4 linked regions of the Homo sapiens genome follow. The protein of the gene in region 1 interacts with the protein of each later gene in a pairwise test. Each region holds a gene or a part of one and is shown in the gene's direction. Other genes may lie near its edges.

Region 1 (7,743 bases):
AGGAGGATCGCTTGAGCTCAGGCAGTGAAGGCTTTGGTGAGCTGAGATTGTGCCACTGCACTCCAGTCTGGGTGACAGAGTGATACCCGGTTCCAAAAAAAAAAAAAGATAACCAGAACAGTGTTTACCACTTGTTTTTGTTTCCTCATCTCTAAAATAGGGACAATAATGTCATGTAATTGCTTGCTTCTATAGAGCTCGATGACAACTCTAGATAGTGAGATAGAGACATCTGAGAGGGAGGTCTGTTTCTTCTAGTTCTCCAGACCATGTGGCCCTTTAGTAGTTCAGCCTCTCCCAGGACCCCGGTGCTTTAGGGAACACTCATGTTGAAGTGGCCCAGGCATGGAGGAGTCAGTCATGAAGCGTCAGAGCTCTTAGAGAATAGTGACTGTCTTCCCTTAGACAAAATATTTCACATTTCTTTGTTCGTGGAGGCCAAGTTGGCTCTCAACCCTGCTCCCAGCTCACCAACTTGGCACCTCACAATCTCCCCAAATCGTGCTTCATCCCATCTTCCATCTTTGCTCTTGTTATACTTCCTTGTCTCAAATCACCCCTCACTTTCTCTCTGCCAACACAGATTCCATCACAAGCACTTGGGAAATGAGTAAGCTCCAAGTTTTCCAAAGGATGTTCTGGAAAATCCTGGTCCTGCCAGCTACAGGATACAAAAGATGGGTTCTGCAGGCATTGAAGCTTGGAAAACGCTGGGTACTATATTTCTCAGCTCTCCAATAATTACACATGCACTTGCAAATTAAAGGCCCTAAAAAGTTCTCATTCAGAGCCCTATTTTGCTCTGTGTTATTCAGATTTCCCAAACATATCTTGACAGTAAAACAGTTTTCTTATAAAACAAGACTTCTTAGAAAAAGTGACCACTGAGCTGAGTCCTGGAGGGGTGTAGCAGGAAAGCAGGAGAAGCGGGCAGAGCAGGAAGCAGGAAGACAGGAGGGCTGATCTGGCTGGAAGACAAATCAGGGAGGACTAAGTTTAAGATCTGAGGGCCATGGAAGCCTCCTGAAGGCTTTCAGCAAAAATGTAATATCAGTTTAGCATTTATAGAGATCACTAGTTCTCACTTTATAAAGATCACTAACTTTCACTACCTGATTTGATCTTTATTTTTTGATTGAAGACCTATAGTAAGCAAAACATGTTGCATTATTACCTAACATCTATGCACACATAACAAAAATTTCATAAAATGGCTCTTATTACATGCAATGCCCACTAATATTTTCTATTATTTTTTTCCTCCTTTGGAAAATCACTTTTAACAATCTATTTTCATCATCCAGGTAAGCAAAGATGAAGACCTGAATTTTATTTGAATGCAAATGTGTGGAGACCCCTGTCTTCTTCCTGATATTCTGTGTGAATAGATGAGAATGCTCTGCTTTAAGACAAGCAGAAGAAGCCATGTCTTGTTCTTCTGCTAAGGGGCAGTTACTCATTTAACCTCTGTGTATGGCTTCTCTTGTCTCTTGTCACAAGTAGAAGGTTGTAACATCATTGAGGGCAGAAAGCAAGTCTTAGATTTATTTTATTCACAAGGACAGTATTTGGCACATTGGTGGACATACCATGCATGTAACAATACACTTATCGATTGCACTGAATTGACAGCTCTTCACCCATTTCAGGGTGAATGTCTTCTGCTCCTGTGCTTGTTAGCTGAGGAATTGACTTCCTGCATCACTGGAAGGAACCCCTAGACTTCCTGCTGCTTAGTCCCGTATGGTCAAACCTCACATCCGGTGAGGTCCATGGAGATAGTGCCCATATTCACATTCTTCTCCTTTTCTTCCCCCAAGGATCCCTCCTGTCTTTCTATCCCTTCCAGGGCTACTATTTGCTCTCACTTCTGAAGTCTCCATAGAAGGCTAGTGACAGAATGGGGCTTAGTGTCCTCAGCCACTTCCTTCTTGCTGTTTCTGAAAACAAGGGAGTTAGCCTTTTTGGTTTAAAGCCTTCACTGCTAAACACCCAGAGGAACAGAATAAGCAATAAACTATCAAGTAGGAGTATCACAAAAATGATTCCCAGAATCTCACACAATTTTCCCTTGCCCCCAAAGCAGTCTGTTGGTGACCTCCCTGCTACACTTCCAGAGAGTGAATTTCACCAAGGTTCCCATCCCCCCCACGATTCCCTCTCTCCAGATTAGATATTCTACTTCTTGCCTGGAGGTCTGAAGGCACAATTAATAATTGAACAATTAATGAGTTAGTCACTATCCAAGTGTTTGAAGTCTGAAGTGGTCAGGGCATTCCAGGAAAGTGACTGTTTTTCAGTGTTTCTCTTCCTCTACCCAGGAAATAAGTTACCTCAGGCTTGAAAGAAAACTGAAGTGTGGTCCACAATATTTCTTACTTTCATCTAGTCACTCAGACAGTATACATGGGTAACTCCAGTTGTGCATCTGAAAAATCTAGGACAACAGGGCTAGTGTTGGTCAAATGCCATGATGGTAACTTCTAGAAGCAAACGGTGTAGTCCAGGGAGAAAGGAGAAAGCTGCCCAGTCCCCAGAGAGAAGCTGCCTAGCTCTAAGTAGCATATGCATTTGATTAACCCAATCCACTCACCCCCAGGACTGTTGCCTTTAGAGTTCATATGCTCAAGACTCCCTGTCAGAAGCCAGTGGGTTATAAATAAAGTTCATTTGCACCTGCCTGGAGTGTTGGAAAACAGCTGTCAGCACAGTGATGACAGCCCTTGTTTGCTTCTGGTGGAAACACAGCTGGTTTTCTTTTTCTTCCTTTTGCTTGTCTGTATATCCAATTTTTCTACCAAAAAAAGTCACATTATTTTGTAATAAGGAATAAAATCACAGTTTGTTGTTGTGTTCAGAAGGGTCTCCTACTGTGTGCATATACCTCACACACAGTGTCATTCTATTGTTTATATTTAAAAGATGATGTTTTGTTGTTTGTTTGTTTTCAAAAAGGAAAATCTATGAGAGAGAACATAGCCTGGGTTTTGGCAACACAGAGCTGGAGAGGAGGTAGGCTAATGGGTATGAACATACAGTTAGCCAAAGGGATAACCTCTGTTGTTTGACATTACAGTAAAGTGACCATGGTTAGTGATAATGTATTATAGATTGCAAAGTAGCTAGAAGAGAGGACTTAAATTGTTCCCAGCACATAGAAATGATCAATATTCAGTGATGGATACCCCCAAATACCCTGGCTTAATCACTACATATTCTACACATGTAAAATATCACACGTACCCCATAAATGTGTAAAATAGTATGTATAAATAAAAAATAAAATCTTAGCTCTTCTTCTTATGCTGAGATGAGCTTGCAAAAATCACTTTGAGCAGAAGCATCCCCACTTGTGAAGGGGGCATGACACCTTCTTCACAGAAGGGTGAAGAACATTTAAGGTGCTCATTCGTGCTTGGAGTATTATGCATGGCTCAATAAACATTTGCTGTTTTTCTGCTTTCTTTCTCATCCTGACCCTGAGATTTCTAAGTATCTTTATAAAGCAACCAGTACTCATTTCTTAGAAATTTTAGAAGGAGCCTCAACATTTTTCCAGTCTGACTTTTCTGGAATCCTTCCCACAGCTTCCCTTTCCAAGGGCCTCTGAGCCTTGGCAAAGCCCAGTCCATGGCTTCCTTGTGAGCAGGTGGCCTATTCCACGGTAGGACAGGTCTTACCATGGTAATAATGTCACTTGCTTTTTATTTAGCTAAAATTTGACTCCCTAAAATATTCGACCTATTTTAACCTCTAGATTCTCAATGAAGAACTAGTAAGACTTCCAGTTCCACCTCTTAATCCTTCAGCTGTTATGTAATACCAGTACCAGGCAGGGCCATCGCATAATGTAGAGCTTGGTCCAGGCGTGGCAGAGAACTTCTTAAGTGACACAAAGCAAATGAATGAATCATGCCCCTGGCAGTTGGCAAACTTTCTAATAGGGGTGTGTTTTACTGCCTCCTGCACTCTATAACTGCTCTTCCAACTGTGTCTTCTCCCCAGTCAACTCATCAGGACCTTTTCTCTCCCTCTCTACCAATGCTGACCTTCCTTTCCCCTTAGCCTTAGTGGATGATGGTTTCTTTATTCCTATATGGAAGACATAGCTGAGAAAGTTGATTAGGAAAACTGTTTTTGCTAATTCCATCACATCGTGTAGGGAAAAGATAGAACTTAATTACTTAATTGCGTAACAAGTAGAGAAACACAGCAATCAGACAATAAAATGAACAGTAGCTTTTTGCCTTAAACAATTCTTTTAAGTCTGAGCTCAATGATACACAACTAGACCATCAAATTATTTTGATATTGAGGAAAACAGAAGCTCTTTTGGATAACCCTGAATTCCAGGCTTTCAGTGGAAAAGACAAAGACACGCACTGTACACCATTAAGTACTTGGGAGACATGATTTTAACCAGGATGTAACTCAATTATATTAGTGATTTATAAAGAGTCTGGAGAAAATATTTCTTTATTTGGGCATGGGCACTGTCAGATTAAAGGTGCAGTGGTTCTAAATGCTGTTTGTTCCAGCCCTGTCTTCGATTGCAACAATGTGAGTGTCTTGTCTGTGCTGGTGGATTATTAACAGAGGTTATTGGTCTCCATGGCAAAACGATTGAATGATTGCTCTGAACGTAATCTCATTTATGGGGGTGCAAAAAACAAAGCACTTCAGGTCAGGGAGAATGTATAAATGTCCATTGCCATCGAGGTTCTGCTATTTTTGAGAAGCTGAAGCAACTCCAAGGACACAGTTCACAGAAATTTGGTTCTCAGCCCCAAAATACTGATTGAATTGGAGACAATTACAAGGACTCTCTGGCCAAAAACCCTTGAAGAGGCCCCGTGAAGGAGGCAGTGAGGAGCTTTTGATTGCTGACCTGTGTCGTACCACCCCAGAATGTGCACTGGGGGCTGTGCCAGATGCCTGGGGGGGACCCTCATTCCCCTTGCTTTTTTTGGCTTCCTGGCTAACATCCTGTTATTTTTTCCTGGAGGAAAAGTGATAGATGACAACGACCACCTTTCCCAAGAGATCTGGTTTTTCGGAGGAATATTAGGAAGCGGTGTCTTGGTGAGTAGGGAAGCTTAAAATCCCCCTAAGGGAGATTTTCCCTTCCCCACAATCCTTTTTAAATCAGGTACTTATTGAACAGGGAGATATTTAGTTGGTAATAGAAGCTCAAGCATTGCATGGTGAGAGGTCAATGCCTTAATTTTTTTCTCGTTTCTGTTAGGATCTGACAAGGACACGTCAGCTAAATTTACTAAGTAATTAATCTCTAAGCTTGGGCTGACAGTTCTCATGGGTCATTTGAGTCCCATGAACCGAAGTGAAGGTCGCATAGTTTCTTGATTCCAACAAGATAGTGCCCAAAACAATAACAACAACAAACCCACGATGCAAACCCACTAGAAAAGCAAATTGACTTAAAACCACCATGAGAAGCTGTTGTCAGTGTGGTCGTCTTCCACTTAGGACCTAATGATTTCTTTACCTCTGGTTTCCAATAGAATTGGGAACCTCCGTTTGAGAGAGTGAAAGGGAGAGAGACTCACTCTTCATGACAATTGAGGAAAAGTTTGTTATTCTTTTTTCTAACACACCATCTAAATGGAAACTCAGATTTTGAAATCTTGCCTCATTGAAGCTGGTTAGTCAGCCCAAATGGAATCTAAGTACTCCATAACACTCCATTACCCCTCCAGCCATGCTCTGTTACTTTGCCATTCCCTTTGGGCCTCCAAATCCCTCATTGTGGATGGGGCTCCTTATACAGTCAGGCAGGCTCGGGCCCTCCCTTCAACTCCTGGACTCTCTCTGAGGTGCCTCTTCTCCTGGTAGATGATCTTCCCTGCGCTGGTGTTCTTGGGCCTGAAGAACAATGACTGCTGTGGGTGCTGCGGCAACGAGGGCTGTGGGAAGCGATTTGCGGTGAGTTACCATGGGGGGCAGCTACTAGAATTACTCCAGGGTGCTCTGTGCTTTTGTGCTGGGCAGCATGGGGATGGAGACAAGTTATCAGCTCCAGCCAGGACTCTGGGAGCAGCTGGTGAAGGGATAAAACTGTGATTTTTCCTGCCAGTGTGAAATAATAATAATTTTCCAAAATACCATAGCCCTCATACTTATAGGGTATGAATATTGTATTAGATTTTACAAACCGACAGGGATGTCAGAACTGGAGATTCAGAGGGGTCCCATATACAGAATGCAAGCCTGGAAGGCAGAGATGAAGCTGCAGCATTCCTCTGCCACTGAGAGGCCATAAGAACTTGGACAAGTCATTTCCCTTTTCTGGCCCTGAATTGCCTCATCTGCAAAGGGGACTTGGGACAGGACAAAAGATGGTATCCTCCCCTCCCCAGTAGGCTTCTAGGTTCCTCACTCACACCACTTCCATGTTCTCTATTTCTGAGGCCCAGCGCCTCTGGCTTCCACCAGGCTCTGCTTCAGGACTTCTGTTTCCTCTCTTGTTTCATGCGGCCATCGATCTTGAACTAGAGACGTTAGGCATCAAAGTTCCAGAGTGCAGTGGAAAGAATGCTGGGACATGGGGACAGGACCCATTCTGCAATTGAGCAAGTCATTCTACTGCTCTGCCTCCCTTTGCTCATGTATAAAGCAGGAAGCTGGACTAGACCAGAATTTCTCAAGTATGGGACAAGCTCTGGTGCTACACAGATGTGCTATATCTTTCCACAACATAGAATGTCATTCCCATTCAATTCTCCTTCAATCCTTTTGAATCTATCAATCTATCAAGAAAAAGATCTTATTTTGGTAGACATAAGTCTTTCTTTTTTCTTTTCTGTTTTTTTTTGTTTTTGTTTTTGTTTTTTTTTTTTTTTTTGAGACAGGGTCTCACTCTGTTTGCCCAGGCTAGATCTTGGCTCACAGCAGGCTTGAACTTCTGGGCTCAAGTGATTCTCCCACCTCAGCCTTCCAAGTAGCTGGGAGTACAAGTGTGCCACCCCACGCAGCTGATTTTTTGTATTTTTAGTAGAGACAGAGTTTGGGCATGTTTCCTAGGCTGGTCTCAAACTCCCGGACTCAAGCAATCCGCCCACCTGAGCCTCCCAAAGTGCTGGGATTACAGGTGTGAGGCACTGTGCCCAGTCGTCTTTACTATTTTTTACCCTTTATAATCTCCCTTTCTAACAAAGAGAGGACAAGTCTTAGGCTCCAGGAATGAATGCAACGTTGTTTAACTAAAATGCAACTATATTGTGTTTCTATCTGCCAATGATTCTAATTTTTCATTCATATAGTGATATAAATGAACACAATGAGAGCTGACAAAAAATATTAAGAGTTAGATATATTGATGAGGCAGAAATGAAGCATAGTAGAACTGGAATTACTGGTCTGAAAAATGAGGAAGATCAGTTTCTCCTGTAATCTCCCATGGTTCACATGTCCACCTAAAAGATTCATGAACCACAATAATGAATTAACCACATTTACTTTAACTTCCTAAAGGGAAAGGTGCATCTATCCATTCTGAAACAGGATCCTTTTAACATTTCTTTCTTAGCATTATTTGTTCATTTATTCAATCAAAAAATATTGAGCACATGTGAAAGGCTGAGGCTGCTCCAATGTGCATACATTACAGTTTCCATGTGAGTTCAAAGGTCAAAGAAAATATAACATCATGAGTCCCAAAAAAGTATTGATGATTGTTATGTTAACATTTAAAATCATCATTTACAAAGAGTTCTTTTTAAAAAA
Region 2 (7,023 bases), on another chromosome or scaffold:
ATGATTTTGAATCTTGATACTGCCATTGCTATGTGTTAGCTATCTTCCCATCCCATCCTTATCCCCAATTTTGCATCCACTGCACATTGGATTAGTAAACCATCTCTGTCCTCACTGTGCTGTGGTTTAAAATATTGAAGAAAACCAGGCCTTAAGCATGATGGTGGAGACTCAGTCTGGGTTGATAATGATCAATACCTCCTAGGGTTGTTTGTCTGCCTTTGAATGGACCCAATTAATCCTGGCTCCACTGACATTTCTGTGTCTTGTCCACATGAATTTCTTTAATCCCATCTGTTAGCTGCCTTGCTGATATCTAGATGGATTACATTCCACAGAACTTCAAGGCTTTGCAACCCTTTGAAAAGGAGATGCACTTAGCTGAGCATGACTTGTTCTGGGTGAATCTGTGCTAGTTTCTAGTGCCCACTACTTCCTCTTCTGCATGTTCCAAACATTCTCCTCTCCCCATTTTGAAGTTTGCAAGAGTTCAGGTTTGTTTTCTGAATTTCTAGAATCCACTCTTTTCCTTTTTGTGAAAAATGGGAACAGCTTGTCTTCTGACATCTTTCCTGTTCCCCATGATTCCATGGGGATGACCAGAGGTGGTGCTGCAGCCTCACCTGTGATCAGTGATTCAATTATCATTTCAAGATGTTCTTGTATGTTCTTATATACTCTTTTCTTGTAGGCCGGTCCCATTCAAGATCGATATCTGAGGTAGCAAAGGTAGATGCCAAAGGAGAGCTGGGTGGTTCCGCTTTCTCTGCCATCTGTTTAACATTAACGTGGCCCTGGTACTTCCTCATTCTCTTGCTCCAAACAGATTTGATGTTTTCAGAAACCCATTGGATGGTCCTTAGTATTTGTTTTAGCTCTCCTGTTGGCCTGTTAGTATCTAAATGTCCTTTAGCCATTTCACATTGAAATGGTCTGGCCAGCTAGACAGAGAGCTCTCTGAGGGCAGGGGCTGCCTTGGCCAGAGTTTGATGCGATGGTCCCCACTTTCCACTTTGATGCTGCACAGCCTTCGTAGCCTCGGAGATGCTGTGAAATGCCGGAGGAGGCAGCGCAGTGAGCTGTGTGGTTTGATGGTCTGACAGACAAGCGTGCCATCATGGAAAATTCTTTGCAGAGTGTGCAGATCCATTTACGCAGGCCGGCTGCTGCTTCTGCAAATTACACTTTCCTTCAGAACAACCCACCCATGCCCTTTTTTTCCCACCAAACCTCAGTCATGCTCTGGGTAGGTTAGAAACAAGGTTTTTTTTGTCTCCCTCTGTTTCCATCCCTCACTCTTCTGTCTCTTCTCTCTCAGTCCTTGTCTTGGTTTTTATAGGCAATTTGGCTGAATGCCTAGCTTCTGGTCTGGATGGCCTACCCATCTGCAGGCGCTCCTTGGGGACAGGACTTGAGCCCCAGATTTAGAGTCCCTTCTTATGTGACTTCTGGGGTCCAGGCCCTGCCAGCTGATAAAGCCCCACAGATAGGTTGGAGCCAGTGGTGATAGCAGAATTGGGGCCTAGTCAGATGGAAACAGGTTTGCAGCTGTCAGTATTGTAGGAGTAGATAAGTTCCCCACACCTCTGCCCCACCGCTCCTCGCACTCTCCAGGGGGACATCCCATCCCCAGGTGGCCTCTCACCTGCTATCCACAGTTACTGGAAGCTCTTTGGGGATTGATAGCACAGTTATGAGTCACCCTGAAATGTACTCACCCTCTGATCTGTCCCTTCCCAGACAGCTGCTCAGCCCAGGGCAGAGAGAGAAAGGGCTACAGGGAAGGGAGGGAAGTGAGATCCCACAGGGGAGAGGGTACATTAGAGTCCTAGGCTGGGGGAAAGGAGGACCTGCTGATTTGCATGCCCTCCGAGGACAAGTCAACAGGGCACTGAGCTGACCTGAGCAGGTATCCTACAGTAGGCTGAAGGGTATATGGGGGGCCCCTCCCCAGCCAACCCTGAACAAGGACCTGGTCTCTGCAGGTAGAACACCCTCCATGGAGGGCTGGGTGAGGCACAGGGGACCTCCTTGTGTGTGTCTGCCTCACATGTGCTTTTTTTGAGAGGCAGAATTAATCTAGTGCAGTGGTTCTCAAAGTGTGGTCCCTGTCCACAGCATCACCTGGGAACATGTTTAGAAATGTTCCTTCTAGACCTCCTAAATCAGAAACTCGGAGTAGTAGGGGCCAGCAGTCTGTTGAACAAGATTTCCAGGTGATCCTGGTGCATGCTAGTAAGTTGGAGAAGCATTGACTCAGTGAAAGAATGAACTTTGGAGCCAGATTGCCTGGGTTCATATCTTTACCTTGGGTAAATCAGGTAACCTCTCTGATCCTCTATACAATGTTTCATCTGTAACATGGAGACACTGCCACCTTCTTCTTGTGATGACTAAATGAAAATGCTTACAAGGAGTTTAGTGCAGTTCTGTCAATCAGCATCTGTTAAGTGTGGCCTCAGCTCTGACCTTTACTGTTTCTCATTTTAGGTGGTATCTGATGCTGCAGGACAGGGTGTGGCCATCACAGGGAACCAGACCTTCAACAACTGGAACTGGCCCAATGCAATGATTTTTGCAGCGACCGTCATTACCACCATTGGTAAGTCTTCTGGGACCTGTAGGACACCCACATCCATGCCCTAGCTCCTCAGAACCTTTCTAGAAACCCAGCTCTGGTCACTCAGCCCTGTTGGGGGTACAATCAGATCAGTTGCAGGCTATTCTTTTGATACTTTCTTAGGGATTTGTTAAGTCCTTGGTAGCTGATCATGCCTGGGAAGGTTTCCTTGAGTCTTGACCTGGGCTCTTTGAGCAGAAACAATGACACAGCCTCATGGCCAGAGCCATGCAAGAGATTAACCAGACTGCTCATTGCAGAAACCCAGATCATGACTACTTACCAAGCTGGGTGTCTGTTTCAGTTCTCAGGCTGCATAGCCAACCAGTCCAGAAGTTTGGCTCAGAACGCAGCTTCTTCTCTTTCACCATTCTGTCAGCTTGACTGGGCTCAGCTGGCTGGTTCTTGCTTGGGCTCCCAATGCAGTGGCAGTCGAACAATGGCTGGGCTGGAGTCTTCTGAAAGCCAAACTCATCTGATGGCCCAGATGGCTCCTCCCATCACAGATTTGACAGTTGATGCTGGCTGTTGGCTGGGAGCTCAGCTGGGGATGAAAACACAAGGCCTCCGCATGTGTTTGGGAACCAAGGCGAAAAGCAGCAGGCTTCTTAGACCTCACCTGTCCAGCGTCTCTTCCGCTGCCTAGACTGCTTCTGTTGTCAAGCCACTAAAGCCCAGATTCCAAGGGAAGAGGATTAGATGACACCTTGATGTGAGCAGTTGCATAAGAAGGGAGGGAATGGAGGATGGCTATCTTTGGAGACCATCTACCACAGTGCTTCTGGGGAATCTACACAGAGAGCATGTCTTATAACTTGCACAGTGGTACCATATAGACTAGTGGAAGACCTGTTGACCAGGCTTAGTCCCTGCCTTCAGGGAGCTCCTTGTATGATGGAGGAGATACAGCTCATGTCATCATAATTGCTTTATCAATGATCATGATCAGAGTATGATCAAGGGAAATATCATTACTTAAGTACTGACAATAGATCAATATCAATTTATCTTAGAGAACGGGCTGTGTGTGTGTTGGAAGCAAGGCCCACTGGTTTGACCACCCCTCCTGTTCTTGGCCTCACTCTCTCCTTCCTCAGGATATGGCAATGTGGCTCCCAAGACCCCCGCCGGTCGCCTCTTCTGTGTTTTCTATGGTCTCTTCGGGGTGCCGCTCTGCCTGACGTGGATCAGTGCCCTGGGCAAGTTCTTCGGGGGACGTGCCAAGAGACTAGGGCAGTTCCTTACCAAGAGAGGTGTGAGTCTGGTATGTCCCCTACCCTGGGTGTTGGGCAGAGATGGGGGAACCATGACAGGTGAGGGGAGGACAGGAGGCCTCTAGGAATTGGACCAAGGGTGTAAGGACAGATGGCAAGAGGATAGTTTCAGAGCTCCTTGCCCTCCCGGGTCAGGCTGGGTACCCAGCTAGCTTCTCCTCTAGCTGCCTCCCTGGCCCTCTGGGTGCCTTTGCTGGGTTTCCAAGTCTCCACTATTCTCTGACTTGGCCTCCTGCTCCCCATCAGCGGAAGGCGCAGATCACGTGCACAGTCATCTTCATCGTGTGGGGCGTCCTAGTCCACCTGGTGATCCCACCCTTCGTATTCATGGTGACTGAGGGGTGGAACTACATCGAGGGCCTCTACTACTCCTTCATCACCATCTCCACCATCGGCTTCGGTGACTTTGTGGCCGGTGAGTCCCTGCCTCTGCCTCCCACCTCTTTTTCTGCTTCTTTGGTTTCAGTGCAACAGACCTATGTTGGGGGTGCCCTAGGTAGGGTTCCATGTTCTGGGCACTTCTCTTACCCAGTGGGATTCTCAACCCACTCTGCCATTTGCAAGAGGAAACTAAGACCCAGAGTAATGACAAAAAACTCTTTTCTCTCTGGTTCCCTTTCTCAGACATGGCCTTTTTCCTCCTCCTTTCCTCTCTGCTCAGTCTCTGATCTCCTCTCCCTCAGTTCTCCCATGACTCCTGAGCTTGGCTTCATGGGGGACTTGCAAGTAGGGCCTTCTGCCTGCACGGTTGGTACCTGCTACCCAGGGAGCCCCTGAGCCCACCAGCACCCACTCCACGCCCTCAGCAGCCTTTCATCTTTCACAAGAGTGGAGGGAGGTGTCCTGAAGGCATGGCTCAGAGGCCTGGGGCTTTGTTCCTGCTGTAGCAGCTTAAAGACAAGGGAGGCCTTCTCCCCAGCTGCCCTGCCCCCAGCCCTGACACTCCCTCCTACTCCTCCCCTGCTTAATCCAGGGAAGTGATGAGGTTCTTTGGCCCCTTTGTCTGAAGGCCTGTTACCAGCTGGCCCCAGCCACACATGTACTTGTGTTTGTGGCCTGCACAGCATCTTGGTTCTTAATCTTCTTGACACCCTGTTTGACCCTGTTGACCCACCACCCCAGTGACCTCAACTTCTGCTCCAGAGGCCTCTGTTCTGTACCCCCTCCCTTTTGCCCAGAGGGCAGTGGGAGGCCACTAGCCTTGTGCTTGATGTATGTGGCATCTGGGAGCAGTTGGCTGAGTTGGGGGAGGAACAGGAAAGAGAGGCACAAACACTCCCCTGACCCTGCCAAGTCCGGGCCTGCTGTCCTGGGCAGTACATGTGGACAAGGCACAACCCTGCCATTGTCCAGCCCTTGAGGCCCAGAGCAGGCTAAGGAGGTGCCTCTGGTATTAGGGAAATACAGATGTACACTTAGCCATACTTTCTCAGCACCAGCAAGACACCAAACCCTGCCTCAGCTTTCTCTTCTGTAAAATTAGTAAAAATAATAATTACTATTCATGAGTGTTAAGGGTAGGGCCTGGCTATATCAGTGTGTGCCCTCATTACTGTCATCATGAAACTCTGCTTGTGATTGAGAGCCTTGAGCAGGATTAACAGGACCACTCAGGGCACCTGCTATCTGAGCCCGGTCGTGGGAGGAGAACTGACCGGGCTACAGCACCTGGAGGAACCTCTAGTCTGATGAGAGAGGTAGCCCCCTTCCTCCAGGTCCCTTCTGTAAGTTGCTCTTGTATCTAGTCGAGGGGGCAAATGGAATACAGGTCAACATGCCTGTACATGTAGTCGTCAACGACATTTCAAATAATCCTGGAGTGTAGGGGGAACCTTCAGAGCTGTAGGGGGTAAGCCAAGAAGGCTCCCTGCAGCAGGAGGGGGATGTGGAGCAGACAGAGCCCTCCTCCAGGTCAAGGGAGAGCTGATCTGAGGAAGTCAGGGAGGCAGACCAGACCTTCAATGAAAATAAAAATGGTTCAGCGTTTCTTGCCACGGTGGGTGCTTCCTGGGTCATCTCAACCTAACCACCAGCCTTGTTTGTAATCCACCAGTGTGAGTCTAGCCCCAGCTTGGAGGGTGCTGGGGGCTCCCTTGTGTAATATCCATCCATTCCGTTTTTAAGTGAACTGTATCATATACGCAGAACAGCTGGGGATGGTAGAAGAATTAACAGAAAGGCAAATACTCATGAACTGTTTCTTGACCTGTGTGTCGGTTACATTGCCAGTCCCCCAAAGCCCCTTTAGCTTCCTTCAAAGAGTCACTGTCTTGACTTTTTTTTTTTTTTTTTTTTTTTTTGAGACGGAGTCTCTGTCTGCTGCCCAGGCTAGAGTGGCAGTGGTGTGATCTTGGCTCACTGCAACCTCTGCCTCCCGGGTTCAAGCAGTTCTCCTGCTTCAGCCTCCTGAGTAGCTGGCCCGCCACCATACCTGGCTAATTTTTGTATTGTTAGTGGAGCTGGGGTTTTACCATGTTGGTCAGACTGGTTTCGAACTCCTGACCTCAAGTGATCCACCTGCCTTGACCTCCCAAAGTGCTGGGATTGCAGACGTGAGCCACCATGCCTGGCCTGTCTTGACGTTTCTAGTTGAGGAAACCGAGACTCAGAGACAGGCTGGAGACTGGGATGGGGTCATGAATGATGGCAGGCCCAAGCCCTTGAGGAAGATGGGATAGTCCAGGGTCTAGAACAGGCCCCTTTCTATCCCACTGCACCCCCGTCCTGTGCTCTGGCCTGACCCCTGCTCAGATCACACAGCATTGGCCATTGCACATTTCCCGGGCCCTGCTAACTCTTCCTGACCTCTGGACTGCCTGTCCGCTCAGGTGTGAACCCCAGCGCCAACTACCACGCCCTGTACCGCTACTTCGTGGAGCTCTGGATCTACTTGGGGCTGGCCTGGCTGTCCCTTTTTGTCAACTGGAAGGTGAGCATGTTTGTGGAAGTCCACAAAGCCATTAAGAAGCGGCGGCGGCGACGGAAGGAGTCCTTTGAGAGCTCCCCACACTCCCGGAAGGCCCTGCAGGTGAAGGGGAGCACAGCCTCCAAGGACGTCAACATCTTCAGCTTTCTTTCCAAGAAGGAAGAGACCTACAACGACCTCATCAAGCAGATCGGGAAGAAGGC
Region 3 (7,023 bases), on another chromosome or scaffold:
CATGCCTAATGTGTGTGTTAGCTTGAGAGCCTGGGGTTGTAGAGCAGAACTGTTGGCTGCCTTGCCAGGGAAAGGCCCTGCTTTCTCCCTCAGACACCTGCACTGCACCAGGAACTACATCCACCTGAACCTGTTTGCATCCTTCATCCTGCGAGCATTGTCCGTCTTCATCAAGGACGCAGCCCTGAAGTGGATGTATAGCACAGCCGCCCAGCAGCACCAGTGGGATGGGCTCCTCTCCTACCAGGTGTGTGGTGCATCCAGGACCGCCTCAGGAGGGATGGGCGGTTGGAGGAGGCCTGCCTCTGCCACCCTAGACAGGCCTGGGACAGGAGAAGACAAGAGCCGAACAGTCCTGGCCCTTCGGGAGCCCCCAGTCTGATGGGAGAGGCAGTTCGCCTTGGGACCCTCCAGTCTGCTGAGAGAGGCAGTCTACCTTAGGGAGCTCCCAATCTAAGGGAGGAGACACTGCCCTAGGGAATTCTCAGTCTGACACAAAAGAGTAGTCTTTGGAGACACACTTGAGTTTGAATGTCAGCTCTGTCACTTACTATCTGTACACTTTTAGGCAAGTCACTTACTTCTCTGAGGCTGAGAAATAGGTGAGAAGTCACTTACTTCTCACCTGCAGGGGGATACATTACTTTCTTCCAATCAGGATAGTGAGGATTCAATGAGCTAAAGCAGATAAAGTCCTTAGCACTAGCCCTAGCCAGAGATGTGAGCTCTCTCCTCCTGCATTAACCATGGCAGGATAGTGGCTGGAGCAGGACGGGGAGTGGTATCAAGAGAGGCAGAGGGCAGAGCTGTTGTCCCCATGACACCCTTCCTCTACCCCCAGGACTCTCTGAGCTGCCGCCTGGTGTTTCTGCTCATGCAGTACTGTGTGGCGGCCAATTACTACTGGCTCTTGGTGGAGGGCGTGTACCTGTACACACTGCTGGCCTTCTCGGTCTTATCTGAGCAATGGATCTTCAGGCTCTACGTGAGCATAGGCTGGGGTAAGAACCGCCATCACCCACCCTGGACCTGTGGCACGGGGGTGGGAGACCTTGACCCCTCTTCTAACATGGTACTTGGAACGCACTGCTGAGCAAGGGGCAAGGCCCACTGGGTAACCCTCTTCCTGGGCACAGGACCTTCTGCCCCGGTGCTGTTAAGATGCCGTAGGGGGTTATGGTCCTCCCCTCCTCTGCATAACTCTCCTCCCTTAATGGAAGCCTCCACCGCATGTGGCCAAACACCACCCTCTACCACTATCATGCACACCACTGGAGGTCATGGCACTGTTCTCTTAAGACCACATGGGGACATAAGTTCACACCCAGTCCCGGGCAGCCCGAGGGCCTGAGGGAAATGGTGAGTCCTGGGCCTCAAGGTGGGGAGGGGATCAAGAGGGTAGGGGGCTGGCTGGGGGGAGCCTGCTGGTGCTCTGTCACATGACGATGAAGAGGAGGGCTCAGAGGAGAGCCAAGTACAGTGGGGCAGGGGGGCCAGAGGCCAGCCAAGGAAAGGGTGGACGGCGGATGTGCCTGGAGCCCAGCTGGAAATGTTCTAGCCAAAAAAGTTTGCCAAGAACCATTGTGTCTTTTTTTTTGCTGGAACATTTCTGGTTGTGCTTCTGCCTCTCACCACGTGGGATTGTAATGAGGGGCAGCATTGGGGTTGGGAAGGGGGCTGGGATCCCCTTCACCCCTGGGAAAACATGCAACAGGCCTTTCTGGAGGGACCCACGGTACCCAGAGAATAGGCCCTGCCCTCTGTCCTCCCTAATCTGCCATTGAATCCATGAGTTTTCCTGTTCCACACCATCCCCCGCCCTGCTTGCCACTCCTTCATTCACTCCTCCTTCCTTCATGCGCCCACCTCACGCTGCTCTGACCACGGCTGCCCCTGCCACGGACCTCCGGGGACTTTCCAGCTCAGTCACATCCAGACTCCTCTTCCCTGACAATGGTCCTGTCCCTGAGCCTTTGCAAGGCTGTTCTCCATGCAGGAATGTTCAGGGAGCATCCTTCCCACACCAGGGTGTCCGCTGCCTCTTCAGGAAGCTGCCTCAGGCCACCAGTCCTCGTGGTTCTGTGCTCTCTGCCCTCTCAAGCTCTCCATCCCCTGTCCTTGCACTTCATTTATTTTTACTGGTGTTCCTCAGCCATTTTTCTCTATACAGCTCCCCCCACCCCCCAGGAGAAGAGTAGCCTGAGAGATTTTAATGTGACCAGTGTCTTGAGGACACCAAGGCCCAGAGCTGGCAGGGCCTTACAGGCAGAGCAGGCCCTGGAACCCAGGCCTCCTGACTCCCAGGCTCTGGGCCTGCGGCCATCATGCCCTGTTCTCTTGCCTGGGCTGCATCCCTTCAGTCCCCTGCAGCACCCCTGAGCAGGCTCAGGCCTCTGCACAGGTGGGCAGGTAGGCCTGGCTCCTGCTCACAGATCCCTGCTCCTCACCTGCCTCCTCCACTCCCAGAACCCAGTCCCTTCCTTGGCCTTTTCTCCCCGAGGCTTCTTCCTCCTGCTAGAGCAGGAGGAGGGAGGCCATCGAGGGCAGCTCAGGGAAGGCTGTCTTCAGGGTGGGGGACGGTGTCTGTCCATTCTAGGAAATAGCATCAGCGCTGTTAGTGCCTGTCACCATGGCGACCCGAGGGCAGGAACAATCAAGGGACGTGTGTGATGTGTGCAGAGGAGCGGGGGTGGCTGGAGTTTGGTGGGGACACACTGCCCTAGAGGTCTCTGAGTGGGAGATGGGGGAGGGAGTGCCAAGTCCTTTTCCTACCACCTCACACCCTAGCTCAGGGCTCGGGGTCTGTGGGAGCACAAGGGCAAGACCCGGAGGACACCCTGCTCTAATCAGAACACCTTTTTCTTGAGGATTGGGGTGGGGGAGACGGAGAGAGATTCACAGGTTGCTAGGAGCTCAGACGTGATGCCAGGAGGCCTTGCCCAAGCTGGGATACTTGGGAAACAACTTTCAGCTTCATGTGCAAGTGGAAGAATTAAAATTAGGACTCTGACACAGTTGGAGAGGTCCCCCAAAGGGCATGGCAGCTTCTGCTGCAGTCCCCAGGCAGTTGGGGGCCTGTAGAAACCCACATGGAGGCTGTGCAAGAGGGAGGCAAATGATGGTTGAGGGAATCATTACTTCCTGGAGCCAGTTGTGTGTGTCTTAATTTGAGCTTTTTTCTCCAACCTGTCTTGCTCGTTTTCTAAATGGGAGAAAGATGAAGCCAGCAGGGAGTGCGTAATGTTTGCATGCAGCAGGGCTTTCGTGACTGTGTTTTTTGAAAAGGCCTTGTTAAGGAAATGCTGACGATGAGTGAAACTTGCCAGGTCTGGCTGATAACATGGGTGAGTGCCCTGATCCTGGAAGGAGGTCTCAGAGAGAAGGGACAGCAGGGGGCGAGGGATACCCAGAAGGAAGCTTCTGCATGTGTACGTGGTTCAGGAAATCGGCATGCTCTTGCCCAGACAATGTTCCTTCCCTTATTGGTGTGTTGACTCACCCATCATTCGTTCCATTCTCACTGGGCATCTTCTATGTGGCAGGGCCTGTACCATGTGCTGGGGCCTTTGGAGACCATCCCATTCCTTGTCCAGTCTCATAAAGGCCTGTTACTAAAGCACCGTAGATGCTGAGAGGTCCGATTTGTGTAGAAATCAATGGGCCAGGAGAGAGAGAGCTGATGAAGAATGCTGGTCCGCTGGGGGCTCCTTTGCCTCCTCCATCTCTCCCTGCATCATCAGGCACAGTAGATCTGGGCACACAACCTGCTTAGTAGCTGCTGTTGAGTGGACACTGATGTGCTAAAGACATAGACAATGGTGACAGGAAAGGCTATGAAGTGGTTCTGTCCTGGAAATGTGCTCCAGGCAGAGATTCCCAAAGTCATACGTGCACACTCATGGTCCACCCACCACACCCTCACACACACATGTCTACATACCTTAATATGCACATGCTTACCTATCTCAGACACATCTCCAACACTGAGGGAGGGGCCAACGGAGACGAGCATGGAGACAGCCAGTGCAGAAGGCCATTGAGGGCGGTGGGAGTGGGTATGGGATTGCAGCCCTGAATTCGAGCCCCACCTGTGCCCTTCTGAGTCCCTGATCCATCTCCTCATATGTCATGTGAGGAAGGAAAATCCAATTTTAAATCAACCAACACAGACCCTGAGCTCTCAGGGTGATCTGGGCATTGAGGCTCTGAAGGTGAGTGAGGCCCAGGCTCTACCCTCAAGGAACTGGGAACCAGTTGTATTAATTCTCTATTGCTGCAGAACGATTAACCCTGAAACTTAGCTACTTAAAACAACGAACCATTGTTATCTCACAGTTCCTGTGGCCTGCAATCTCGGTTCAACTTAGCTGGGTACCTTGTGGCTCAGGATCTCACAGAGAAAACTCTTTAGGCAAGAGCATGTGGATTTCCTGAATCACATACACATATAGAAACTTCCTTCTTGGGCATCCCCCACCCCCTGCTGTCCCTTCTCTCTGAGACCTCCTTCTAGGATCAGGGCACTCTCAGAGAAGCAGCCAGCTGTCACCAGGGTTGCTGTCATCTCAAGGCTTAACTGGGGATGGAGAATCTACTTCCAAGCTCATTCAAGAGGCAGTTGGCAGGAAGCCGCAGTTGCTGGCCAAAGGCTGGAGGCCTCCATTTCTTGCTGCAGAGACCTCCATCTAGGCCTTCTGAGTTCTCTCAGCACATGGCAACTGGTTTCCCCCAGAGCAAGTGATCAGAGAAAGAGAAAGAGAATGCAAAACAAGCCACAGTGTCTTTTATAACAATCAGAAGTGACATGCCATCACTTCTGCCAGAGGTTCCTGGGTCACATGAAACAATGCTGATACAACGTGGACTAACTACCCAAGGGTATGAGCACAGGAGGTGGGGATCCCTAGGGGCCATCTTAGAGGCTGTCTACTACACAAGTCAAGTCTCAGCCGAGTGGAAAGTAGTATTGTTGTAGCTGTTGTTATTGTAGGCCACTGCGGACAGTTAGTTGGTCAGCTGGCATCAAGGACTGGGCTCCTGTCTCCATTCCAGGATTCTGCCGAGCCCTCTTGAAGGTGCACAGTGGTAGGGAAGAGATGACTGAAAGGACATCCAGTGCCTTTAGGAGTTGACTGGCAACGTGGGCTGAAGCAAGAGAGAAAATGGGCATCAGAGGGTTCGCCTGCTCCTTGCCTCATCCGTCATGCTGTCCCCACCGCATGGCCCAGTCCCGCTGCTGTTTGTGTGTCTGTGGCCTGGTAACTTAGCCGGGACTCTGAGGGCAAGTCCTGACAGTGTGCCTGGCACACAGGAGGTGGGGGACTGATGACTGATGAGGACCTCTCTGTAAGGAAGAGTCTGGGGGTCCGCATGGGGCTCCTGCTGCCTCTGTTCTCCCAGGTGCCCAGAAAAAAACTAGAAAACATAGTTGGAGGCCAGGCAAGGAGAGGGGCTGGAAGTGTGAGGGGCTTGGGGCAGGGAGAGGCCTCGGCATGTAGACTGTGGCTCTGGCCTGCCAGCCCCTCTCCCCTTCTGTCTTTCCCTCTCTCTTAGGTGTTCCCCTGCTGTTTGTTGTCCCCTGGGGCATTGTCAAGTACCTCTATGAGGACGAGGGGTGAGTGTCCTGCTCCAAGGGGGCGGGTGTGCCCAGGTCCCCATCCTCAAGGTCCATGGGATTCCTTGGTACCTGGGGCACCCATCTGTTGAGAGGATAAAGGGGGGTACCAGGAGCTTAGAAGGTGAATTTAGTTCTCTAATCTCCCCTCCCTGCCCCTGCCCCTGCCCCTGCCCCTGTCCCAGGATTGTTTGATGACTAACGGAACTGGGTCTGTGGGGTACATGGTGCCCTCCTGCAGGTTTTTCTGTAATATCTGCAAGTGAAATGTTTGTGTCATTTTGTATATGATGCTGGGTACACACATGACTGTGTTGGTAGGTCCTTGAAAGCTTGTTTGGGGGCTGTGTGCATCTCTGTGTATGACTGTGTATTTGGACTATGCGTGTGTGTTGTGTGGCTGTGCACTGGCAGGGCTCTGTGGGTCCATGGGACTGGTTTTTGGGTGGCTCCTGGGAGCTGTGTGTGTGGCACTCAACATGGCCATGTGCATTGGCGGCCTCTGTGCCTGCACCTGAGCTGGGGGTCCTGTGAGTCCTGCTGGATGCATGTGTGCATCTCTCTCCCTCCCCAGCTGCTGGACCAGGAACTCCAACATGAACTACTGGCTCATTATCCGGCTGCCCATTCTCTTTGCCATTGGGGTGAGTGATGGTGTCAGGGATGGGAGTGGCAGCTATGATAGGGCTGGGCTGGTGCCCCCTGCCAATCCCCGGCCCCACCCCGCAGGTGAACTTCCTCATCTTTGTTCGGGTCATCTGCATCGTGGTATCCAAACTGAAGGCCAATCTCATGTGCAAGACAGACATCAAATGCAGGTGATGTAACTGAGCTGGCTTTACTGAGGACCCTCAGCAAGTGCCCCTTTCCTTCTAGCAGAGAGAGAGAGAGAGATCCTGGGATGCTTAGCTTAGAGCCCTACACTACCCTCTCCTTCCACCCAGGCCTGGCCTTGGACCCCAAACCCTTGCTTTTGCCCTGTCTCTGGGCAGCCCCTGGACTTGTTGGGGTCTTGACCTCTATTCTTTCCCTCCAGGCAGCCTGTCCCAGGGTATTTGGGGTGGGAGAACATCCATGACCCAGATATCAGGACTTGGTAGGAAGTGGGGAGGGTAGAGAAAGGGAAGAAGAGTCCATGGGAGAGGTCCAGAATGACTCGAGATCTCTGCCCTGCCCCTCAGACTTGCCAAGTCCACGCTGACACTCATCCCCCTGCTGGGGACTCATGAGGTCATCTTTGCCTTTGTGATGGACGAGCACGCCCGGGGGACCCTGCGCTTCATCAAGCTGTTTACAGAGCTCTCCTTCACCTCCTTCCAGGTGACTTCATGCTTGGGGACACTTGCTTGTAAAGTCCTAGAGTGGGGGTGGGACAGACACCAGCCTGCATCATGCAGATGGAAAAGGTG
Region 4 (7,331 bases), on another chromosome or scaffold:
GAAAAATGAACACCAGAGGTGGACCAATGACCAAAGGCAGAAAGGTTCCTGAGATCAGATTCCTAATGCCATGATGAAGCTTGTAAAGGCTTTCTAGGGGCAGGATACAAGTGATGAAAGCTGGAGGTATGTTAGACCAGCCAAGTGTAGCTTCTGCAGTAGAGCTTCATTGACAACCTTAGAAAAGAACAAACTGTAAAAGATATCTATTTATTGTAGGCAAAATACATTTTTTGGAAATTGGATTTCAGCCATGCCTCAATGACTTCCATGAGATTCCTAGTGAGGCTCTGCCCATGTCCTGTAATTAGGATTCAAAACAGACTCCAACATCCTGGGAATGATTGCTTCCTGTTCTTCCTGCTTCCACTTTTCCTAACTTCAAATATGAACTGCTTGTAGCAACACAGAGAATTCACTCAGGTGTTTCAGTTACAAATCTTGGCTCATAGAAACAGCTGTGCTTAATAAATGTCTTTCCTTTTCTTTTTTTTTTTTGAGACAGAGTTTCACTCTTTTCAGCCAGTCTCGAGTACAATGGTGCGATCTCAGCTCACTGCAATCCCTGCCTCCCGGGTTCGAGCAATTCTCCTGCCTCAGCCTCCCAAGTAGCGGGATTACAGGTGCCCACCATCACTCCCAGCTAATTTTTGTATTTTTAATAGAGACGGGGTTTCGCCATGTTGGCCAGGTTGGTCTTGAACTCCCGACCTCAGGTGATCTGCCCCACCTTGGCCTCCCAAAGTGCTGAGATTGCAGACTTGAGCCATTGTACCCAGACTGTCTTTATTTTTCTATAATCATACTTTTTTCTTTTTCTTTTAAAATTTTTATTTATATATAATTGTTTATATTTTGGGAGTACATATGATGATCTGATACCTATATACAATGTATAATAATCAAATTAGGGTGATTAGGGTATCCATCAACTCAAACATTTATCTTTTCTTTGTGTTGGGAACATTTCAAGTAATCTTTTCTTGCTATTTAAAAATATATAATAAATTGTTAGCTATAATTTACCTACTGTACTATCAAATACTAAATCATTTATTTTATCTAACTATACTTTTGTACCCCTTAACCAACTTCTTTTCATCTCCTCCTCCCTTCCCTTCCCTTCCTAGCCTCTGGTAACTACCAATCTACTTTCTACCTCCATGAGATAAATTTTTTTTTAGCTTCCAGATATGAGTAAGAACATTCGATATTTGTTTTTCTGTGCCTGGATTATTTCACTTATAATGACCTCCAGTTCCATTCATGTTGCTGAAAGTGTCAGATTTCTTTTTTATGGCTGAGTAATATTCTATTGTGTATATAGACCACATGTTCTTTATCCATTTATATGTTGACAAATACTTAGGTTGATTCTATATCTTGGGTATTACAAATAGTGCTGCAATAAACGTGTGAGTGCAGATATCTCTTCAATTTACTGATTTCCCTTCTTTTGGATATATCCTCAGCAATGGAATTGCTGGATCATATGGGAGTCCTATTTTTAGTTTTTTGAGGAACCTCTATACTGTTTTCCATAATATCTCTACTACTTTACATTTTCACAGTGTACAAGTCTTCCTGTTTCAACACAACCTTTCCAGAATTTGTTATCTTTCGTTTTTTTTCTTTTATAATAGCCATTCTAACTCAGGTAAGATGATATCTTATTGTGGTTTTGATCTGCATTTCCCCGATGATTAGTGGTGCTGAGCATTTCTTCATATAGCTATTGGCAATTTGTTTGTCTTTTTTGAGAAATATCTGTTCAGGTCTTTTGCTCATTTTAAAATCAGATTATTTGTTTTTTTTGGTATTGAGTTGTTTTAGTTCTTTATATATCTTGGTTATTAATTCCTTGTCAGATGGATAGTTTGCAAACATTTTCTCCCACTCTGTGAGTTGTTTCCTCACTTTGTTGAGTGTTTCCTTTGTTGTGTAGAAGCTTTTTAGCTTAATGTAATCCCATTTGTCTGTTTTTGCTTTGGTTGCTTGTATCTTTGAGGTCTTACCCCCCAAAAATCTTTGCCCAGACCAATATCCTAGAGCATTTCTACCATGTTTTCCTTGAGTAGTTTTATAGTTTCAGGTCTTACATTTAAATCTTTTTTTGTTTGTTTGTTTCTTTGTTGGGTTTTTTTTTTTTTTTTGGAGACAGAGTCTTTCTCTGCCACCCAGGCTGGAGTGCAGTGGTGCGATCTCGGCTCACTGCAACCTCCGCCTCCTGGATTCCAGCAATTCTCCAGCCTCGGCCTCCAGAGTAGCTGGGATTACAGCTATGCACCAGTGCAGTGCACCACCATGCCCAGCTTATTTTTGTATTTGTAGTACAGACAGGGTTTCACCATGTTGGCCAGGCTGGTTGCGAACTCCTGACCTTGTGATCCGCTTGCCTCGGCCTCCCAAAGTGCTGGGATTCCAGGTGTGAGCCACCGTGCCCAGCCACATTTAAATCTTTAATCCATTTTGGGTTGATTTTTGTATATGATGAAAGACAGAGATCTATTTTTATTCTTCCGTATATGGATATCCAGTTTCTCAGCGCCATTTATTAAGAGACTGTCCTTTCCCCAGTGTAAGTTCTTGGCATCTGGTTTCTCTGGGTTCTCTACTCTGTTCCATTGGTCTGTTATAATAATTGATATTTTAGGTTCCCATTCACATAGATGTCAAAAATTTAATTGCGGCTAATTCAGGATTCACATTTTACCTTTAGGCTTGTGCCTAACCTTAATTAACAGTCCCAATGCATTGGGAAGGTCCCTTATGATCCCTGATGTCATCTATCCTCACAGGCATCCTCTAAAATATCAGTCCCTCTGTCTGGTCCTTATTTGTGATTCTGTGCAGCCTGCAATGGAGACATCCTTATTCCTATCCACATGGCTCTTCAGGCATGACAGCTTTTTCTGATACTTCTATGCTTCCCTTGGCCCCAGGAGTTATTCTCCTCTTCCCAAGATGTGCCTTCTTCTGTAGAGTCCCTTTGCTTCCTTGTAGCTCTAGCCAAGAAACAGGACCATTTGATTTTGGATCCTATAATATATCTAGGGGATCTCAGGGATCAAGTGAAGAACTGACTATAACTACAGTTTTCAGTTTTCCCATTTAATTCTCATCCTACCCTCATAGGGTGGGAAGTGCTGGCTTGTACTCAGGAAGCAACCTCTCAAACTCCTTGTCTATGCTACATGTCTCTTGATAGTCTTCCTATTAGCACAAAATGGGGTGAAGGCTAAGCTGGAGAGGGGAAGGGGAAACTAGAAAAAAATTAGGTTTTTTTTTTTTTTTTGAGATGGAGTGTCATTCTGTTGCCCAGGTTGGAGTGCAGTGGTGTGATCTCGGCTCACCGCAACCTCTGCCTCCCAGGTTCAAGTAATTCTCCTGCCTCAGCCTCTCAAGTAGCTGGGATTACAGACATGCACCACCACACCTGGCTAATTTTTGTATTTCTAGTAGAGATGGGGTTTCACTGTGTTGGCCAGGTTGGGCTTGAACTCCCGACCTCAGGTGGTCCACCCACCTTGACCTCCCAAACTGCTGGGATTACACATGTGAGCCACCATGGCCAAAAATTAGTATTCAAAAAATATTATCCTGCATCTTAAGTAAGTTGAATATGAAGCCATGGGAACTGAGAGAACAGGTTGTTTCTAAAGAGAAATTATCCCAAGAAAAGAAGGAAAAAGTGAGAAAGAATTAAGAGATGGATTGGGAACATTATTTTATTAGAAAATCAGTGACCATTCCTACTTTTATGACCCATGTCCCACCAGTGTTTGCTTGATGGGAATTTTTAGGGATGAGATACATTGCTATGTTACTACTCTATATGTGAATAACCGGTGTGCCTGATTTCTAGCACATTAATGGATTTTATAACTCAATAAATTATAGGCACTCAATAATTTTTATTAAATGAGTGAATGATAAAAAGCAGTGGACATAACTGGATATATTAAAGCAGCATGGGGCTATATGAGAGGAGGAGTTTCATAAGATCAAGATTAAAAATTAATTTGATATATATATTTTTTGCTTAAGTGGTGTTTACTAGTCTAAGGACCAGTACACATACATTAGAGAATGTATTCATTAAGAAGTCTCAGCCAGGCACTTAATTGTTGACACAGGAAAAAAAAAAAAAAGCCAACAAACCAACTCCGCAGAGCTGTGTTAAAAATACTGGACTTTCATCCCTTGATTGGAGGTATTATTACAGCATCAAGCTGACCTGCAATATGGATCATTGAGATCAAAGGCTATAAATTATAATGTTTGCCTTTAAAGAAGTCAATTCAACCCTGAATGTCATAGTTAGCTACTTTCAACTGGAAGCTACAACATGGATTTATGGAATCTGTCTTGGTTTCTGTTCTTGGATGCTCTTCTCGTGATTTCTGGCTTGGTAAGGAAACAGTATATAGAAGATAATTTAAAAATTTTGGGGCAGTTGATATTGATTGTTAAAGAACAAGTGTTTTTTTTTTGTTTGTTTTTTATACATCTTGAAATGTTGATCTCAAATGAGTGTTTCTTCTTGGAGATTAGGGGTGGGCAGTGTGTAGGGAGTGACAAATAGCCACACCAGAGTAGAGACATTGATATAAAGTTATGTTTTCCTTTCAGTTTCATCATTGTGTAACAAGTTTTCTTTTGATGAGATTATAAATGTGTATTTTGAAAATCATTCCATTTTTACTGCTGAATGAAATGCAGATTGCTGCACAGTAACTTGAGACATGAATGAGTGTCACAGGCACCGTCAGTACTTACAAAGTTTTATAACGTGGTATTTCTCTTATGCTTCTTCATCAGTTTAGACTCATCCTTCTACAGTTTGGACTAATCTTTTCTATCAGGTAGTTTGTATCACAAACCAACCCAAGGTTTTAAATGAAGTTTCAAATGGCTAGTGGAAAACCTTCAGTTGTTATTTTAAAATAACAATTATTATATTGGGGTGATATTCTATGAATAGGAACTAGAACATTGCAAACAAGAGATACAGATGAATACATGTTAAAGTGTAATTAGGAATAAATCCTTGATAATTTTATTCTGTAGGTGCACTGGCATTCCTCTATGAGTGTATGCCTGTGTGTGGTTATAGTGTGAAACATGCAAAGCACTTGTTAATGTCAAAAATGATGGTAACCATCCATCCAGTTCATTCCCACATTTTGTTAAACGCTCCAAATGATTCTAGTATTTAGATATGTAAGCTGTATTTGAATAAAATTGTACTTTACACTTTTGTGACAATTTATTATAGCTTACAATGAGCCTTCTTTCACATTATATACTGTAACCCTCACAATACCCATGCAAAGCAGGTACTGACCATATCTTATGGATAGTCTGAGTACCTGGAAGGTGAACTGAATTACCCTTAGTTAGTAGAACTGGTAACATAACCCAGACAGTCCTATGAGCTTTTTAATTCAATCACACTAAGACATTTCTCAGGTTTACTTAGTTGTTTTTTTTTTTTTTCCTTTGGACATGTAGTCTGAGTTTCATTGACCATTTGTGGAGAATCTATTTTCAGAAAAAAAATTAATCACAAAATGTACCCATTGTTTTTCTTAAATATTTGTATTGTCTTTGAAGGCAGAATTATTCTGGGAGAAACATGAATGCAAAATAACTTGATTAATGAGTCTTGAATAACATTTCTTTTTAAAGAATTGTTATAAATTACAGTATTATTTCAACATTGAGAATAAATTATTTGGTTTTTCAAACATTGCTCCATGAATGCTTTAGAAAATCGTGTGTAAAGTGAGCACTTATTTGAGAGCTAGAGTCTTATGTTCTGCCTTTTCCCCCCCAATTTTTGAAGTTGGTTTCTTGTTTCCTTCACCTTCAAATTGATTTAACAGGCAGTTTCATTTTCCATATGAAATGAGAAGACCCTTTGGTCAAAAAGTCATCTTAAACTTCAATTTAGCCATCCTAAATACATGTCAGGAAGTAATCCATAATATTAATGACAAAACAAACAAACAACAAATGGTTAGATATAAACTGAATCCAAGAAGACCATTCCTGGGCATTATAATAATATGTTTTGTTTATGTGTTTATTTCCCAGGCAACTCCAGAAAACTTTGGTGAGTCTATTTTGAGTTTTGTTCTAGGTTATAGAGAACCTAGGACATATTTAATGCTAAACATCATACATAATTACATATGCATAATTGATGCATAATTGCATTGAACTTTGATCTAATACTGGATTCTTTTGATTTATGGAGGGACATTTTATTGTCCATGTTCCAGGCTTCATATGCCCAGCAAAGAAATAGATGGTATAGGAAAGGCCAAGCACAGTGACTGACACATAGACATCCCATAAATGCTTGCTATTATTGTTTTTGTTATTTTGTGTCAAATCAGATGGACCTAATAATAACAGTCTACTCAGTATTCACTTGCATACTCGGAGATTTGGCCATATTATATACACCTTTACAACTTAAAATAGTAATTCAAGTTTAACTTAAGAATTTTGCTTGAAAGTTCCAAGGTATACTACTAGCAAGTGATATACATGTATGAGTAGATTGGGCTAGTTTGACCAAATTTAATCATTTGTTTGCTATTTAATCTAGTCTTCTAGTCTTTCAAATTATGCTTAATAATATATGGAGCAACCAATTTCTTATTCCCGAAGTCATTTGACATTCAAGGAATGTCGATAGGACAGAATACATACATAAAAGCTCTTTAGAGCCCAACCTGGCTCATAGGAGATTCTTAATCAATCAATCAATCAATCAATGTATGTTGAGTCTGAATCTAGTAGTCACCTGAGGCCAAAAGAAACTTGCTTAGTTCTGATTATATAAATGATAAAGGTTTTCTCCTTTTATAAACATAATGTTCAATTTTTTGTTGTTGTTGTTTTAATCAAAGATGTAGATGGCGGAATGGACCAGGACATATTTGATATCAATGAAGGTTTGTGGATTTTTTTTACATAATCTCTTAAGTAGAGAGTTTGAATCCAATTTGCTAACATGAATTTTTATCTTTACTCTTAGGTTTGGGACTGGATCTTTTTGAGGGTGACATCAGACTTGATAGGGTGAGTTGAAACAGTATAAGGAAGAATCTTCCATTAACCACTGCAAGCCAAATTCAGAGTAACTGAGAAAGATTAGACAGCATGAACTTTGTTAAGCCTAACTATCTCTAAGGGTGCAGAATCATGGTGACACATTTATTCAATGAATATATTATACTCAAAGAAATGCATATAATTGTGTCTTCATCTTTCATTACTCATATTTCTGTGTGGTTCAAGCCACCATAACTCATTAC

Evidence for each region.
Region 2: the proteins of TM4SF4 (region 1) and KCNK5 interact in binary tests that used the Homo sapiens proteins (3 or more experiments, as listed by UniProt).
Region 3: the proteins of TM4SF4 (region 1) and GLP1R interact in a protein complementation assay, tested with the Homo sapiens proteins (one study listed by BioGRID).
Region 4: the proteins of TM4SF4 (region 1) and MEP1B interact in a protein complementation assay, tested with the Homo sapiens proteins (one study listed by IntAct).

What each region holds. Positions count from the first base shown.
Region 1 is NC_000003.12:149,469,970-149,477,712, forward strand, and holds the start of TM4SF4 (transmembrane 4 L6 family member 4), read left to right. Parts: upstream 1-4,727; 5' UTR 4,728-4,908; coding exon 4,909-5,082; intron 5,083-5,853; coding exon 5,854-5,943; intron 5,944-7,743. UniProt on the Homo sapiens protein: Regulates the adhesive and proliferative status of intestinal epithelial cells. Can mediate density-dependent cell proliferation.
Region 2 is NC_000006.12:39,191,455-39,198,477, reverse strand, and holds part of KCNK5 (potassium channel subfamily K member 5), read left to right. Parts: intron 1-2,490; coding exon 2,491-2,602; intron 2,603-3,717; coding exon 3,718-3,884; intron 3,885-4,140; coding exon 4,141-4,309; intron 4,310-6,722; coding exon 6,723-7,023. UniProt on the Homo sapiens protein: K(+) channel that conducts voltage-dependent outward rectifying currents upon membrane depolarization. Voltage sensing is coupled to K(+) electrochemical gradient in an 'ion flux gating' mode where outward but not inward ion flow opens the gate.
Region 3 is NC_000006.12:39,072,769-39,079,791, forward strand, and holds part of GLP1R (glucagon-like peptide 1 receptor precursor), read left to right. Parts: intron 1-93; coding exon 94-247; intron 248-841; coding exon 842-1,001; intron 1,002-1,545; exon of another isoform or gene 1,546-1,613; intron 1,614-4,761; exon of another isoform or gene 4,762-5,145; intron 5,146-5,553; coding exon 5,554-5,614; exon of another isoform or gene 5,615-5,699; intron 5,700-6,128; exon of another isoform or gene 6,129-6,188; coding exon 6,189-6,258; intron 6,259-6,343; coding exon 6,344-6,432; intron 6,433-6,795; coding exon 6,796-6,934; intron 6,935-7,023.
Region 4 is NC_000018.10:32,185,723-32,193,053, forward strand, and holds the start of MEP1B (meprin A subunit beta isoform 1 precursor), read left to right. Parts: upstream 1-4,316; 5' UTR 4,317-4,348; coding exon 4,349-4,411; intron 4,412-6,099; coding exon 6,100-6,118; intron 6,119-6,923; coding exon 6,924-6,968; intron 6,969-7,051; coding exon 7,052-7,095; intron 7,096-7,331. UniProt on the Homo sapiens protein: Membrane metallopeptidase that sheds many membrane-bound proteins. Exhibits a strong preference for acidic amino acids at the P1' position. Known substrates include: FGF19, VGFA, IL1B, IL18, procollagen I and III, E-cadherin, KLK7, gastrin, ADAM10, tenascin-C.